Linked DNA regions of Homo sapiens: region 2 is linked to region 1. The links come from fine-mapping of genetic effects on gene expression. Tissue or cell type: hypothalamus. Region 1 holds a variant in brackets; the other region holds the start of a gene. All regions are shown on one strand. Distances are between the middles of the regions.

What was found. PIP is the estimated chance that this variant, and not a neighbour inherited with it, causes the effect.
Region 2: APOH starts here. The variant in region 1 is fine-mapped to the expression of APOH in hypothalamus (GTEx, PIP above 0.99).

Annotation. Positions count from the first base shown.
Region 1 is chr17:66,770,962-66,779,224 of GRCh38, reverse strand. PRKCA (protein kinase C alpha) reads right to left here. Exons shown (of 17, transcript NM_002737.3): 14 at 5,158-5,238. Among named protein-coding and RNA genes, the nearest start is that of MIR634, 12 kb to the left of the region's middle. The variant C/T (reference allele first, on the strand shown) is at 4,002.
Region 2 is chr17:66,225,353-66,233,352 of GRCh38, reverse strand. It overlaps APOH (apolipoprotein H), which reads left to right and starts at 3,938. Exons shown (of 8, transcript NM_000042.3): 1 at 3,938-4,037; 2 at 5,157-5,333; 3 at 7,229-7,325. The coding sequence starts at 3,974. RefSeq lists a silencer at 8-302.

The sequences.
Region 1 (8,263 bases):
GCTCATCTTCAGCCCTCTGCGATTAAAGAGGACAAACTTAGACCAAAACCCTGTCAACGACTTTATCATTAATCTTACTTTTCAATAACAACATCTATTCCGTTTGCTGGGTCTCTGGGATTGCTGAAGCTTGGAGGGGCTGTGGATAATACTGGGTAGAGCCTTCATTATCCTTTCTGAGCTGAGTGACAGCCTAGGAATACATTTAAATTTGCATTGAGGAGTCAGAGAGAAAGATGAAGAAGGGGATTTGAATGAAAACACTGTGTTTGAGGCGGGTGAGGTGGAGATTTAGAGGAACAAAGGCTGTTATCTGTGCCTGCCATTGCACCAGAATGTGGAGTGCCTTTAAGGAGTTGTTGTTTTTTTTTTTTTTTTTGGAGACAGGGTCTCACTCTCTCACCCAGGCTGGAGTGCAGTGGTGTGATGATCACAGCTCACTGCTAGCCTTGACCCCCCGGGCTCGATCAATCCTCCCACCTCAGCCTCCTACGTAGCTGGGATGACAGGCACTTGCCACCACGCCCAGCTCATTTTTGCATCTTTTGTAGACGGGATTTTGTCATGTTGCCCTGGTCTCGAACTCCTGGACTCAAGTGATCCACCCACCTTGGCCTCCCAAGGGCCCCAAAGGGATGAGCCACTGCACCTGGTCTAAGGTGTCATCTTTAAAGAATATCACCGTTTTCTTTTTTTCTTTTATTTTTTTGAGATGGAGTCTCGCTCTGTCGCCCAGGCTGCAGTGCAGTGGCGCGATCTCGGCTCACTGCAAGCTCCGCCTCCCGGGTTCACGCCATTCTCCTGCCTCAGCCTCCCGAGTAGCTGGGACTACAGGCGCCCGCCACCACACTCGGCTAATTTTTTTTTGCATTTTTAGTAGAGATGGGGTTTCACTGTGTTAGCCAGGATGGTCTCAATCTCCTGACCTCGTGATCCGCCCGCCTCGGCCTCCCGAAGTGCTGGGATTACAGGTGTGAGCCACCGGGCCCAGCCATCACCGTTTTTAATAGAGATGATGGAGACCTGAAAGTATGCATATAAGGCAGGCTAAGTGGCTCTGAGAAGCAGTGTGGGAAATATTGGAAACAGGCCAGAAAGTTTGCAGAACTATTGAGAGCTGGAGCCTGGTGCTCTCCAGGGGGCGTGAGCTTAGTAGGGAAACCTTTAAATAAGGCCTGTAAATCACCTCAGGCCAATTTGCAAATGAGGTCTGAGGCCAGTGTGGCAGAGCTTCAAAATGCACCCCCCAAAGGGGACTTCTCTGCCAGAAGAAAGCATTCCCTGAGTTCTCCCCTAGTGAATGAGATCCCAGGAAGGCTTGGAGAGGGGAGAAGCCAGGCTGCGGGAGGGAGGAGGACTTTCCTGCAGACCTGGGTTCTGAAATTCTTGTCTCCTGCTGGCCAAGAGTCTACTCACGTGACCTCTTGTAAAGCGCCCTCGGAAACAGATCCTGGCTTCGTTTCCGCCCAGCCCCTTTTGCATGTTAGCATATGCAAATGTGACTCTTAATGAAAGCAGGGTTTGTTTTCCAGACTCAAGAGCTGAACATTCAAGTGGGATCAAGAGGGGGACTTGGCTTTTTGTGACTTCATGAAAAGCAGGACTCTTAGGGGGCCTGTAATTCAGAGCCGAATTTTACTGTAAAAATTTTAAAGAGGGGGAAATTAACTTGAGGAGCAGACAACTCCTGTTTCTCCAGCCATTGACTCACTGATGGTGACTGTGTACGAACTGCCTTTCTGTGTTTACACCCGGACGTATTTGGCCTAAGAGGAATGCTTTGATTTGGGGTGGGGGGAGGGGAACTAAATAAATAATAAACCACTCTTTTGATGTCAGTCAAGCCTTAACACCATTGAGAAATAATGATCAAATGCAGGCTAAAGCTTTATGTCTTTCAATGTCTACAAGACCATTTCAGTATTTAGGAAATATAATGAAAGACACATAAAGGAGAGATCATCCACAGCCTCCCATCCTAGAGGCAAAGCCGCTGATCTGGAGATGACGTTCATGGTCACAGTGTTACAACAGGTGGCTGTTCGGACATGGGCAGGGCAGGAGAGGGCTCCCCCTACCCACCAGGAATGTCAGGCGACCATCAGGTGGTTAACTCTCTCTCTGTAAAATAATAATTGGTCGCAGCCAGCACCAAGGAAAGGCAGTCTCCCAATAAAGGGAAACACCTGAAACTGGTGAGCAGCAGCTTCCCAATAAGATTTCAGGAGTTGGGCGAGTGGGCTCAAGCACGCGCATGAAAAGGCAACATGGCGGAGTTTAACTGGTACACCACCTTCTAGGACATCTGACTGGTAAGGGAAGAATGCCTCAGCTGAGCACACACGTAACTCCAGTAAACACACTGCACATGCCGCCCCTCCCAAGCACTAGCAGGCCACTGCGCACGCAGACAGCCCAACCCAAGGGAAGAATCAGGGGAGAAGAGATGTAAGACCCTGGAAGAACACCAATGCATAAAACCCCAAGTCAAAAGTCAAAGAGTGCACTAGATCTCTCAAGTCGCCGGCTTGGCCCTCTTCCAAGTGTACTTTACTTCCTTTTGCTCCTGCTTGAAAGCTTTTCCATGAACTTTCATTCCTCTCTAAAACTTGTCTTAGGCCAGGTGCAGTGGCTCATGCCTGTAATCCCAGCACTTTGGGAGGCTGAGGCGGGTGGATCACGAGGTCAGGAGCTCAGGACCAGCCTGGCCAAGATGGTGAAACCCCGTCTTTACTAAAAATACAAAAATTAGCCAAGCGTGTTGGCAGGTGCCTGTAATCCCAGCTACTAAGGAGGCTGAGGCAGAAAATTGCTTGAACCTGGGAGGCGGAGGGTGCAGTGAGCTGAGATCGCGCCACCGACTCCAGCCTGGGCAACAGAGCAAAACTCCATCTCAAAAACAAAACAAAACAAAACAGAAACAGCTTGTCTTAGGCTCTCACTCTACCTGATGCCCCACAGTCAAATTCTTTCTTCTGAGGAGGCAAGAACTGAGGTTGCTGCAGCCTCATGGGGATGCACCACTGCTAACAACAGGATCCAGAGCCTCTTCCTCTCTGGCCTCAGGCCTCCTACTCCCTCCCTCTCTAGCTCAATTCTGCTCTAGCCCTGCTGGGAGCTTCCATTTCTTAAACGTGGCTGCACATTCCCTGGCCTTAGGGCCTTCGCGTGGTGGCTCCCTCTGCCTGGAATGCCCTTTCAACAGATATGCACACAGACAACCCCATACTTCCTTTAGGTCTTAACCTTATCCTCTCTGGCCAATTTCAACCTCCCCCAACACTATCTTCTTTCCTGCTTTATTACTTTTCTTCCTAGCTTACCTCTGCTGTGTTATACATTTTCCTTATCTAACCTGTCTGCTGTCTCTCCTCCTCTAAGCTGTAAGCTTCACGAAGTTAAGGATTCTCGTCTGTTTTGTTCATCCTTATGGCCATGCACATTGTAAGCATTCAGTGAATAAATACGTGGTGAGTGAATGAATAAATGAGTCAATGGACGTAACATGTGGGAAGGGAAGACTTTTTCCCCAGAAACAAAGATGTCTTTGGGGGTGGCTCTGTCGCACAGCATGGCCATCTCTTTCCATTGTCTCTGACTAAGGCTTCTGGCTATGGAGAGTCACAGGTCTTGGCACTAGCATGTGAGTGCTGGGAATTATAAAAAGCTGCCCACGGCAGAATCATGTTTAGTATAAGGCAGAGATCTGCTGGGTGATTACCAAGCCTGCTTCGTGATTACCAAGCCTGCTTCCCCTGCTGAGCTCTCAGATATGCTATACTTCCTGCCTCTTTGTGTCCCACTGGGGCCAAGTGGCCAGTGGAACCTAGGCAGAAGTGATACATGCCATTTCTAGGCCGGCCCCTAAGATATCCTATGTAACTGATCTGTGCTCGGCTGAAAGGAGGAGGAATTAGCGGAGAAATCTGAGACCCTAAAAGGTAGTAGGGCTGACGGACAGGAGAAACCTGTGTCCTTGAATGAACCTGTGGGTCAGTGCC[C/T]CACCCCCACATGGGACTTTGCCACGGAAGTGTCCTATGTGGGGGTGGGCACTGACCACAGGGTCATTCAAAGACTCAGGCTTCTCGCATCCATCAGCACCACCATCTTGTAGGGTCTCAGATTTCTCCACTAATTCCTCCTAATTTCAGCCTAGAGCATGAGGACAGTCATAAAGGATGTCTTAGGGGCCAGGCCTAGAAGTGGCAGATAGTACGATTCACCCTGATGACACAGATATTAAGGCCATTATATTAGAAAGTGCCATGTTAGGCAATAAGGCACATGGTTATCTGGTACATGTCACATCATAAGAGAAAGCTAATTTACCTTCCTTAACTGGATGTTCAGCCTCACTGGACTTCAGTGAAAATTACAACGAATTGCCAAGGGTGAGATAGGAGGAGATGGGGAGAAACTATTAAAACACTTCTTCAAGGTAACTGTCTTCTTCCTTAAATAATAATACTAATTACACACATTGGCAGCAGCTGGGGCAATCTTTGCAGACAAACTTGCAGGGAACCATATAACCCAACCCCAGTTTTAAGATACTGAAAACTTAGAGGCCACTGCTGTCATCAACGTGCACATTTTTTTCTTTTTTGAGACCGTCTCACTCTGTTGCCCAGGCTGCAGTGCAGTGGCACGATCTTGGCTCACTGCAGCCTCCGCCTCTCAGGCTTAAGCAATTCTCATGCCTCAGTAGCTCAAGTAGCTGAGTTTACAGATGTGCACCACCACGCCTGGCTAATTTTTGTATTTTTAGTAGAGATGGGGTTTCGCCATGTTGGCCAGGGTGGTCTCGAACTCCTGACCTCAGGCGATCCGCCTGCCTTGGCTTCTGAAAGTGCTGGGATTATAGCCATGAGCCACCGCGCCTGGCCAACATGTACATTTCATAACGTGAAACTGACACTGTCTACACTCCAGGTTGTAGCTTTCAATTTGGAGTTTCTATGACCAGAGATAATTTCTGTGCATACTGAACGTGATCCACTTTGAAGGGGGCGTTTCTCCCTCTTTCGCCTGGGTCAGGGAAGTCACGCCAACACCAGCTGCACTAAAACGTCAGGTCTTGCTCTCGAGGCCCAACCAGAGCTGAAGTATTCACATAACACAGCAATAAACAAACATGAAAATGTAGCAAAACATTACCTGCCCGGCAAGCATTTCATACAACAGGACGCCATAGGCCCACCAGTCCACAGATTTTCCATACGGCTGATAAGCGATTATCTGTGTGAAAACAAACACATCAATTACATTAGTGGTAAGTCCAATAGCCCCTGTCAGAACAGGTAAGTCAAGCAGGTAGGCATTTATACACTCAGTTCATGCAGATGAGGTGCTAAGATCTGTCTTTGATGTTACGCCAAGGGAAGAGGACCCTTCAAATCAGACACACGGAGAACTATCACCCCGTGATTCACTGCCCACGGCTGGTTTGGGGAATCTTGTTCTGAATCCACCTGGAGATGCCACAGCACTGTCTGAAGGTAGTTTTAATTATCCTCCCTGGCAGAAAGTATGTGGACACTGAGGTGGATTTAATTTTGAGAAAAAGCCAGAGGCCGGGTGCAGCAGCTCACACCTCTAATCCCAGCACTTTGGGAGGCTGAGGCAGGAAGATTGCTTGAGTCCAGGAGTTTGAAACCAGCTTGGGTGACATAGTAAGATCCTGTCTCTATTAAAAAAAATTTTTTTAATTAAAAAAAAAAAAAAAAAAAGGAAAAGCCAGAGGTCATTCAGAGTTTGAGTCTGACATATAAGATGATCAAACTATGTAACAGGGCTTTACTAAGAGTATAATAGTAAGGATGATGATAAGGAAACATTATAGTTTTCTTGTGTTGCACAGAGAAGTGCAATGATATACATTCAGTCTATTGAAAAACAGAAGTTTTAAAACACTTTTTAAAAGACATAAAATATAGTAAGCAAATATAGTATCTAGAGCCAACTGCAACAAAGAAAATTTGAAACAACTGGGAAAATTAAGATACAATCTGGATGTCAGATGATACTGAGGACTTACCATTCATTTTGTTAGGTGGCATAATGGTATGTTGACTAGTTAGAAAACATGTTTTCTGGCTGGGTGTGGTGGTGTGAGTCTGGAGTCCCAGCTACTTGGGAGGCTGAGGCAGGAGGATCACTTGAGCCCAGGAGTTTGAGGCTAGCCTGGGCAACGTAGCAAGACTCTGTCTCTTAAAAAGTAATAATACTATTAAAACATTTTTAAAGTGTGCTTATCAGTTAGAAATGAGTATATTTATGGGTGAAATAGAAAAGAGATAAAGTATTTATGGGTGAACTGACATATCTTAAATTAAAAAAAAACACTTCAATAAATGAGGTGGGAGAAAAATAAATGAAATGAGTTGGCAAATGCTGGCAGCTGTTGAAATTGGTGATGGGTCCACAGGGAGCTCATTCTACACTTCCTTCTACCTTTGTGGCTATCAGAAGTACTAGAATAATTCTATAACCTCCCTTCGTGGAAGGGAGTAACATGGATTTGAATTTCTAAGTATGGCAGGGCTTATTAAAACACTGGCTTCATTACCTCTCAGGTACGCTGTGTACCTGCTGCACACAATTCCCAGACCCATGGATCACATGCCAGGATTCAAGGTCAAGACACACTAACAGGTACTCAGCATAACCATTCTGCCATTTCGCTTACAACTTTTACTTTGAAATGTTCTGGGATTTTTTTTTTTTAATGGCCCAGAATGTCTAATTAAATGTCCTCGGACATAAAACTTTCTGCATGTCTGCCCACTTTCATTTCTTTAATGTATTACTAATATTTCTGCATGTAGGATGAGAAACACAAGCACCAACAGTTTAAGTGTGGGCAGTAACAAGGGTAAACAAGATTAGATCTGGCACCTTTGTAGCTCATTTCCTTGACAAGAAAATGATATAAACATAGGAACCTACAAGGAGTCTCTAATTTCTTTTACAACCTTTGTTCTGCACATTCTTTTCTGAAAACTTGGAAAATACACACATAAGAAACCCCAAGAAATGAGTCTCCAGTCTATTACCCGGGGATGATACATCTCATTCCAGTTCCCAGACAAAATTTTGCATCAAAGGAGTTGCATATTTTTATAACCTTTGATACAATGGTAAATTGCTCTCCCAAAAGGACTGGACTGAATTTATCTCCCTGATACCAATGTCATTATATTTTCCATTACCAGGTAAAACCATTCTGTTAAAAATAATCTTTTTGTGCTTTTAAAAAAAATTCCAGAAGCCATGCATGCTCATTAAAGAACAATTAGGAAGAAAATGAAAAGCTAAAGAAATAAGGAAGCGGCGGGCGTGGTGGCTCATGCCTGTAATCCCAGCACTTTGGGAGGCCAAGGCGGGTGGATCATGAGGGTCAAGAGATGGAGACCATCCTGGACAACATGGTAAAACCCTGTCTCTACTATAAATACAAAAATTAGCTGGGCATGGTGATGCCTGCCTGTAGTCCCAGCTACTTGGGAGGCTGAGGTAGGAGAATCGCTTGAACCCGGGAGGTGGAGGTTGCAATGAGCCAAGACTGCATACCACTGCACTCTAGCCTGGGCAAGAGAGCGAGACTCCGTCTCAAAAAAAATAAAAAAAAAGAAATAAGGAAGTAAAATTGTTTATGATCACTATCCAGAAATATTAATGTTATTTCCATATAAAACCTTTCCATATTTTTTTCTAGGTGTGATATGTGTGTACATATGCATTAAAAACTGAATTATGTGAGCCTGCTATTTTGTGGTCAGTTTGTTTATTTAATAATATATCATGAGTATCTTGGCAAGACCTTTGACTATTTCTGCAAAATAAATTCCTGTCAATAGAATTGGTGGGTCAAAATAAATGCTTCTAACTCAAAAGTAAAACTTTTTAAGACACATTGCTGGCCAGGGGCAGTGGCTCACGCCTGTAATTCCAGAACTTTGGGAAGCCGAGGTGGGTGGATTACTTCAGGTCAGGAGGTTGAGGCCAGCCTGGCCAACATGGTGAAACCCCGTTTCTACTAAAAATACAAAAAAGGTAGCCAGGTGTGGTGGTGCATGCCTGTAATCCCAGCTACTCGGGAGGCTGAGGCAGGAGAGTTGCTTCAACCCATGAGGCAGAGTATAGTGAGCCAAGATCGCCCCCACTGCACTCCAGCCTGGGCGACAGAGTGAGATGCTGTCTCAAAAAAAAAAAAAAAGACACATTGCCAGGTTACTCAAAACAGTAGCACGCTCACTCCCAC
Region 2 (8,000 bases), 550 kb after region 1:
TTCGGGCCCACACTGTGCACCCAGTTCTCATGTCCACCTGGGTTCCCTAAGTCTTTCTTTGCCTTTCATGGCTTTTGCCCTTTTGAAGATGACAGGGCAGTCATTTTGCATAACGTCCTTCAATTTGTGTGTGTACAGTGCCTTCTCATGACACAATCCAGGTTACTAAGCTTTTGGCAGGAATATCACAGAAGTGACGCTGTGTCCTTCTCATTGCATCCTCTTGGTGGAGGACATACATGCCAATTTATCCCATTAGTGGTGACATTAATTTTGATTACTTAATTAAGATGGTGTCTGCCAGGTTCTTCCCCTCTAAGTTTCTCTTTGTCTCCTTTATAATAAATAGTTATTTTATGTGGAGACATGTTTAAGGCTGTATGAACATTTCTCATCCTACTTGTATCCCCTGATTCTAGCATCAATTGATACTTCTTTGCCAGAATTAAATCGTTTCATAATTATTTCCAAATTACAATTCTCTAAGTCCAGTATTCCTCTATATTAATTGCTTGGCATTATACTCTAAGGAATAACTTTCTTATCTCTTCACATAATTGTTAATGTGTTTATTACTATCACTGTGGACTCACTGATTCCTATTTTATTCAGTGGAGTATAATCCATTACTATTATTACTTATTTGGACAAACTGTCACATATTTGACCAGAGAAAGCACCCCCCGCCCCCCGCTTTTTTTTTTTTTTTTTTTTTTTTTTTTTTTTTGAGATGGAATCTCACTCTGTCGCCCAGGCTGGAGTGCAGTGTCACGATCTTGGCTCACTGCAACCTCTGCCTCCCGGGTTCAGGTGATTCCCCTGCCTCAGCCTCCTAGCTGGCATAACAGGTACACGCCACCATGCCCTGCTAATTTTTGTATTTTTAGTAGAGACGGGATTTCACCATGTTGGCCAGGCTGGTCTCAAACTCCTGACCTCAAGTGATCCACCCACCTCGGCCTCCTGAACTGCTGGGATTACAGGCGTGAGCCACCGCACCCAGTCAAGAAAGCCACTTTCAAATGGCTTCTCTGTCCTTTGGACATGTCCCTATCATTCTCTGAGCATTACCTAAGTTGTTCAAGATGGTGTTCCAGGCTCATCTTGTACTTTTCCTTGACCCAGTTCAAGAATCAGCCAATTTTCTAAGGAGCTTTGGTGCCTTTCGATGGTGGATTGCATTTATTTATTTATTTAGATAGTGTCTCGCTCTGTTGCCTAGGCTGGAGTGCAGTGTTGCAATCTCATTGGCTCACTGCAACCCCTGCCTTCTGGGTTCAAATGATTATCTTGCCTCAGCCTCCCAAGTAGCTGGGATTACAGGCACCTGCCATCATGCCTGGCTAGGTTTTGTAGTTTTTGTAAAGACAGGGTTTCACCCTGTTGGCTAGGCTGGTCTTGAACTCCTGACCTCAAGCGATCTTTCTTTCTTCCTGAAGTGCTGGGATTACAGGCATTAGCCACCACGGCCTGGCCAAGAATTGCATTTAACAACCAATATTTAGGCACTGTGTGTGCTCATTGCTACTGGATGTACTACTGCTATTATCCTAGTGGACAGAACTAAGAATTATATGTATATTCAGGCATACATTCACACACATGTACATACCATTATATCTATATTGATTTCTGTATCTGTTTATATATACGCACAATTTGTACTGTCTCCATTTTCAATCCAACACCTCAAGGTTCATGCTAACTTTCCTTCTTTCCGCATTGTTACTTCTCTTGTTAGTGAGAAACCTGACCCCCATTATCCTCAATATATTTGCTTGTTTGCTCAATCTCCTATATGTAGCTAAGCTTGTGACACCATCACGCTGCCATCCTTACACAGATAAGCATGACTTTCCCCTTGAGGCCTTCCTTGTGACTTTTAGACTGAGTTAGGATGAAAAGAAGGAGGAAGGGAGGAAGAGAGGAAGGGAGGAAAGGAGAAAGAGAGGAAGGGAGGGAGGAAGGAAGGAAGGAAGGGAAGAAAGGAGGGAGGGAGGAAGGGAGGGAAAAAGGGAGGGGAGAAGGGAGGGAAGGAAGGAGAAGGGAGGGAGGGAAGGAAGAAGGGAGGGAGGGAAGAAGGAGGAAAGGAGTGCATAGTTTTCCAATTGAAGTATAATCAAGTAAACACACAGATCTTAAATATTTGGCTTGATGGCTTTTGAAAATTGCATGTAGCCAAGTAACAACCACCTAAAATAGAATATAAACTATTTCGACACCCCTACCCCAAGTTTCCTAATGCAAGGGAGCCCAGCCACCAGGAAACATCATTAAAAACCCTTCTCCTTGTCCTCTCTCAATATCAGGCACTCAGTTTGTAGCTGTTGCTGAAAATATTCTCGTCTCAATTTTAACCTTTTCTCAAATTTTCTTTAACTGATGCCCGACCTCTTTGGTTTCTCTCTCCTTTTCCCCTTCTACTTCAGATCTTACTATACAGAACGACTTGGCTCCTCCTGACTTCATTAGTTTTCTTTCTTCTTCATTCATCAAGGAGATTCTCCACAATAAAGCGGAACCTGGGAATTATCCAGAGAACAAGAATCTCCTTCCCCTTAGAAGGACAAATAGGGAAGGACCACTGTTATTTCACATTAGTGGCAGCACACTCTTCTTATCATGGAACACAATGTTCATTAGGATCGTAATTTAAGAATCATCTGCCTGACAGATGGAGATTTCTCAAGCTGATGTGTCTCAGGGAATTTTAGACCTCTGGATATAAACCAAGATCACCCAAATGAGAGCAAGCGGAGGTTATTTATTCAGAGCTTGCTATAGGAAGGGAGGCAGCCATTAACAGTTGTGTTTGGCAGAGACTCAAAGTCAAAGTCAGACAGAGGAGTGGGAAAGCTTTATAATAGAAAAAAGGAAAGGCTTCAGGTGTGCTCCAACGGATTGTTGGTATGGGGAGGATGGAAGGAAACTAACTAGAAGTGAGGTGTCCATGTGATTGGTTAGAGAAATATGTTTGGATTTCTCTGGTTGGCCTTAAGTTGGGCCAACTGCTATAGAGGTTGTAGGTTTGGCTTTCTAGACCTGTTGCTACAGATGTGTGGGTCAGAGTTCTGTTTTCACATATGGCCTGGCTATTGTCCATTTATATATCCTTTTTTTTTTTTTTAGAGCAAATGATGTAGAAGAGAACTAGGGAATCAAAGACAACCCCCCTTCCGAACCCTCTCAAGCAACAACATCAGCACTGGCCCATTATCTTATCCTACTCAAGTTTTTTTTTCTTCTTCGAGTCCCAAGTTGTTAATTTCAAATCAATTTTCAAATTCCTGAAACAGATCTAGAAACCTGTCTAGACAGATCCAAGACATATTAAGAATGGATGAGGAGGACTTTGTATTGATCTGACGTAAGAGAAGATAGAGAATTCAAGGATAGCTCTAAGGTCCTAACTGGAGCTATAGGAGCTTGCAAGAGAGGATGTTGAGCTCAGTTTGTAGGGAATTAAAGTTGTAAGTGCCTCCTGGAAGACATTCTTTGTAATTATACATCTGAAAACTGGAACATCATTTTAGAGAGGTGGAGACTGAGAACAGAGAGTAGGTGTTTGTCCAAAGTTTATATGCCAAGGCTGTGAGTGAAACAGGAGCTTCGATCTTTTGGTGTTCCATCTACAACATACACAAAACAAAAGATGGAGAATGAGAAGTCCAGGCAACCCCGGAAACAACAAGTTTCTGTCAAAAGCAATAATGAACTGTTTTGTGCCATTAACAAAAACGTTATGAAGACAGAAACCATCTCCCAAAGATTTCATAACAGAGCCACATAAGTGGAAAGTAAATGATTAAAGAATGTGGGTCTCAGAGTTCCATTCAAATCATGATACTTTATCTTCTATTTACAAAGATAAAAGTACACCAGAAAATGGTTAATGTTTAAGCGCTTTCATATTTGGCTCTGTCTTTTTAGCAGACGAAAACCACTTTGGTAGTGCCAGTGTGACTCATCCACAATGATTTCTCCAGTGCTCATCTTGTTCTCGAGTTTTCTCTGCCATGTTGCTATTGCAGGACGGAGTAAGTACTTTTTGCTTTTGAAAAAATAATTAATATATCCAACCCCTTCGTATATGTCAGGGATCAATAATGATAAGTAGGCCGGGCGTGCTTGCTCACATCTGTAATCTCAGCACTTTGGGAGGCCAAGGCAGGTGGATCACCTGAGGTCAGGAGTTCGAGACCAGTCTGGCCAACATGGTGAAACCCCGTCTTTATGAAAAATACAAAAATTAGCTGGGCATCATGGCCGAGGTGGGCGAATCAGTTGAGGTCAGGAATTCGAGCCCAGCCTGGGCAACATAGTGAAACCCTGTCTTTACTAAAAACACAAAAATTAGCCGGGCGTGATGGCAGGCGCCTGTAATCCCAGCCACTCGGGAGGCTGAGGCAGGAGAATTGCTTGAACCTGGGAGGCAGAGGTTGCAGTGAGCCGAGGTCCCCCCATTGCACTCCAGTCTGGGCAACAAGAGCAAAACTCAGTCAACAATAATAATAATAAGAAGAAGAATAATTAAATTCTTTTTTTTTTTTTTTGAGACAGAGTCTCGCTCTGTCGCCAGGCTGAAGTGCAGTGGTGCGATCTCGGCTCACTGCAAGCTCCGCCTCCTGGGTTCACTCCATTCTCCTGCTTCAGCTTCCCGAGTAGCTGGGACCACAGGCGCCCGCCACCACACCCGGCTAATTTTTTGTATTTTTAGTAGAGACGGGGTTTCACCGTGTTAGCCAGGTTGGTCTCTATCTCCTGACCTCGTGATCCACCCGCCTCAGCCTCCCAAAGTGCTGGGATTACAGGTGTGAGCAACTGCGCCCAGCTGATAACTAAATTCTCTTTAGAGTGGATGCTGGAGGGACTGGATTGATACTGATTCTTTAATATTGCCATGTGTAAAGCTCCTCTGTAAGATACGTAGCCAATTTAAGCCTCAGCATACTGACCTGTAAAATGGGGATAATTATAATACCTCCTTCAAATGGTTGTTGAGGGGATTAGATGAGATAGTGTATATGAGGTATTTGGCATGCAACTTGGTATGCTTATAATTGGTAACAGTACACACATTTTTCATTTGTGGGCTTAGCTGAACTTTAAAATGCAAATAGAGATTTGTTAACCATCTGCTTTGTGCCCTCTTTCAGCCTGTCCCAAGCCAGATGATTTACCATTTTCCACAGTGGTCCCGTTAAAAACATTCTATGAGCCAGGAGAAGAGATTACGTATTCCTGCAAGCCGGGCTATGTGTCCCGAGGAGGGATGAGAAAGTTTATCTGCCCTCTCACAGGACTGTGGCCCATCAACACTCTGAAATGTACACGTAAGTCAGTACCTTCTCTCACATTCTCTTCCCTCATTTGGATTCTGGGTATTTTGGAGGAATAAGCTACCTCGTCATGCTCAGAGTGCAGAGGGCCAGTAGATGCTGCAGAAAGCCAGGTTGGAGAGAAATGAGAAGGTCTTGGGGAGTTCTCTCTGTGCAAAGAGAGTAAGGGTAATAGGTGCTATTGATAGAAGAGGAGAAGATCATAGCCTGAAACTAGGGTAGGTTTAAAAATGAGATCTGGTGTGGCAAAAGGAGAAAGAAACACTACAGAAGTTAAAAGAACAGTGGAGAGGCTTTGAAATGTCAACTGATGCCAAAGAGACATTTGGAAAAACAAAATTTGGGGAATCATCATATCTTTGGACTTCACCTGAAAATGAAAGCGGACTTAATAGTTACTGAAATGAATACAAATTTCATCTACATTATGTATATATTATATTATAATGAAATACAAGAAAAGAGGTCAAATTAAAATAATAATATAACGTAAAATATATCAATCTCACTATGGCTTTACTGTAAATGGTTGCTTTTATTTATTTCTTAGAACATGGTTCTATGATATCATGCTAGCATTATTCTTTACAGTCAAGTATTATGCAATCAACCAGATTGAATTTATGGTACATTTAATTATATGTAGAAGTTAAGCAGTAAAAATAGATGTATGGATCTGGTGATTTTGGTTATATGAACAGGACCTTTGTCAAAGTTATGCATGTTCATGCAAGTTGATTTTACTATGCTTTTTTGCTTAAAGAGCCTAAACATAATTTTTAGTAAAAAGCCAATGTAACATCATTAGGGAAAATTTTTCTTTAAATCAGGGCCAGGTGCGGTGGCTCACACCTGTAATCCCAGCGCTTTGGGAACCTAAGGTGGGTGGATCGCCTGAGGTCAGGAGTTCAAGACCAGCCTGGCCAGCATGGTGAAACCTCGTCTCTACTAAAAATAAAAAAAATTAGCCGGGCATGCTGGCATGCGCCTGTAGTCCCAGCTACTCAGGAGGCTGAGGCAGGAGAATCACCTGGGAGGCAGAGGTTGTAGTGAGCTGAGATTGTGCCACTGCACTCCAGCCTGGGCAGCAGAGTGAGACTCTGTCTCAAAAAAAAAAATAAATAAATAAATAAAATAAAAATCAGCTATAACTCTGGAACACTAAAAATTTCATTTTTTTATTTTCCATGCATATCTTTTTGCATTACTGCAGAGAGCAGGTATAATTTTGTATTTTTCTGTTTTCATCAGCATATCATAAAAATTGTATCTCCACATATTTCACAATTCATATTTTATTGGCTACATAATAGTTCAACTTTTGATTTACCATGATTAATTAAAACAGTCCCCTGATGAACCCTTAGACTATCCAATTTTTTTTTTTTTTTTGGAGACGGAGTCTCACTCTATTGCCCAGTGCAGTGGTGCCATCTTGGCACCCTCTGCCTCCTGGGTTCAAGCTATTCTCCTGCCTCAGCATCCAGAGTAGCTGGGACTACAGGCACCCACCATCATGCCCAGCTAATTTTTGTATTTTTAGTAGAGATGGGGTTTCACCATGTTCAGGCTGGTCTCAAATTCCTGACCTCAAGTGATCCACCCTCCTCTGCCTCCCAAAGTGCTGGGATTACAGGCGTGAGCCACTGCTCCCCGCCTGTCCAAATTCTGTTATTAGGAGAAACAGTATAATGAACGCTTTTGTACATATATCACTTGTCTTATTTTGAATTGCTTTCTTAGAATAGTTACCAGTAAAGTTATTGAACCAAAGGATGAAAATGAATTTATATGTTTCATTTAATGAAAAATTCTATAAATAGAAATTTACCTGTTTATGTTTTTTTTTAGCCCAAAGAAAAGTAACATTTTTTATCTTTGTATCACAGCCAGAGTATGTCCTTTTGCTGGAATCTTAGAAAATGGAGCCGTACGCTATACGACTTTTGAATATCCCAACACGATCAGTTTTTCTTGTAACACTGGGTAAGAACTTTCATGGAACTAAGCAGTTAACAGACTGAGCACATTTTTGTATCCTTAAGCTAAACATCAAGACTGGTCTATATTTTGTTTTCAGCCTTTAGGTTGGACTTTCAAATGCAAATCGATTTTAGTCCTGCTTTTTTTTTTTTTTGAGACGGAGTCTCGCTCTGTCGCCCAGGCTGGAGCGCAGTGGTGCAGTCTCGGCTCACTGCAAGCTCCACCTCCTGGGTTCACACCATTCTCCTGCCTCAGCCTCCTGAGTAGCTGGGACTACTGGCGCCCGCCACCACGCCCGGCTAATTTTTTGTGTTTTTAGTAGAGACGGGGTTTCACTGTGTTAGCCAGGATGGTCTTGTAGCATTGAGGGTGGGGTAAGGATTGGAGAATATAACAACTAGTGCAATACGTAGTCACCACTGTATCTAATTTTTCTGCTCCTGATTAATTATCTCAGAGGAGGTACATTAAAATGATTGAACCTGGATGATAATTCCATATGATCTCTGGGCCAAATCTTGGATAGGGTTAAAATACTTTAGGAATAAGACTTGGGCTTTAGTTATTAGGCTAATTTGATTGACCAACCTGGTAGTCTCTAGAAGAGAATTCTATGGAGAAGGTTGGGAGTGTGACAGTGGAGAATGCAATGCAGTTCCACATCCCCAGGAAGCAATC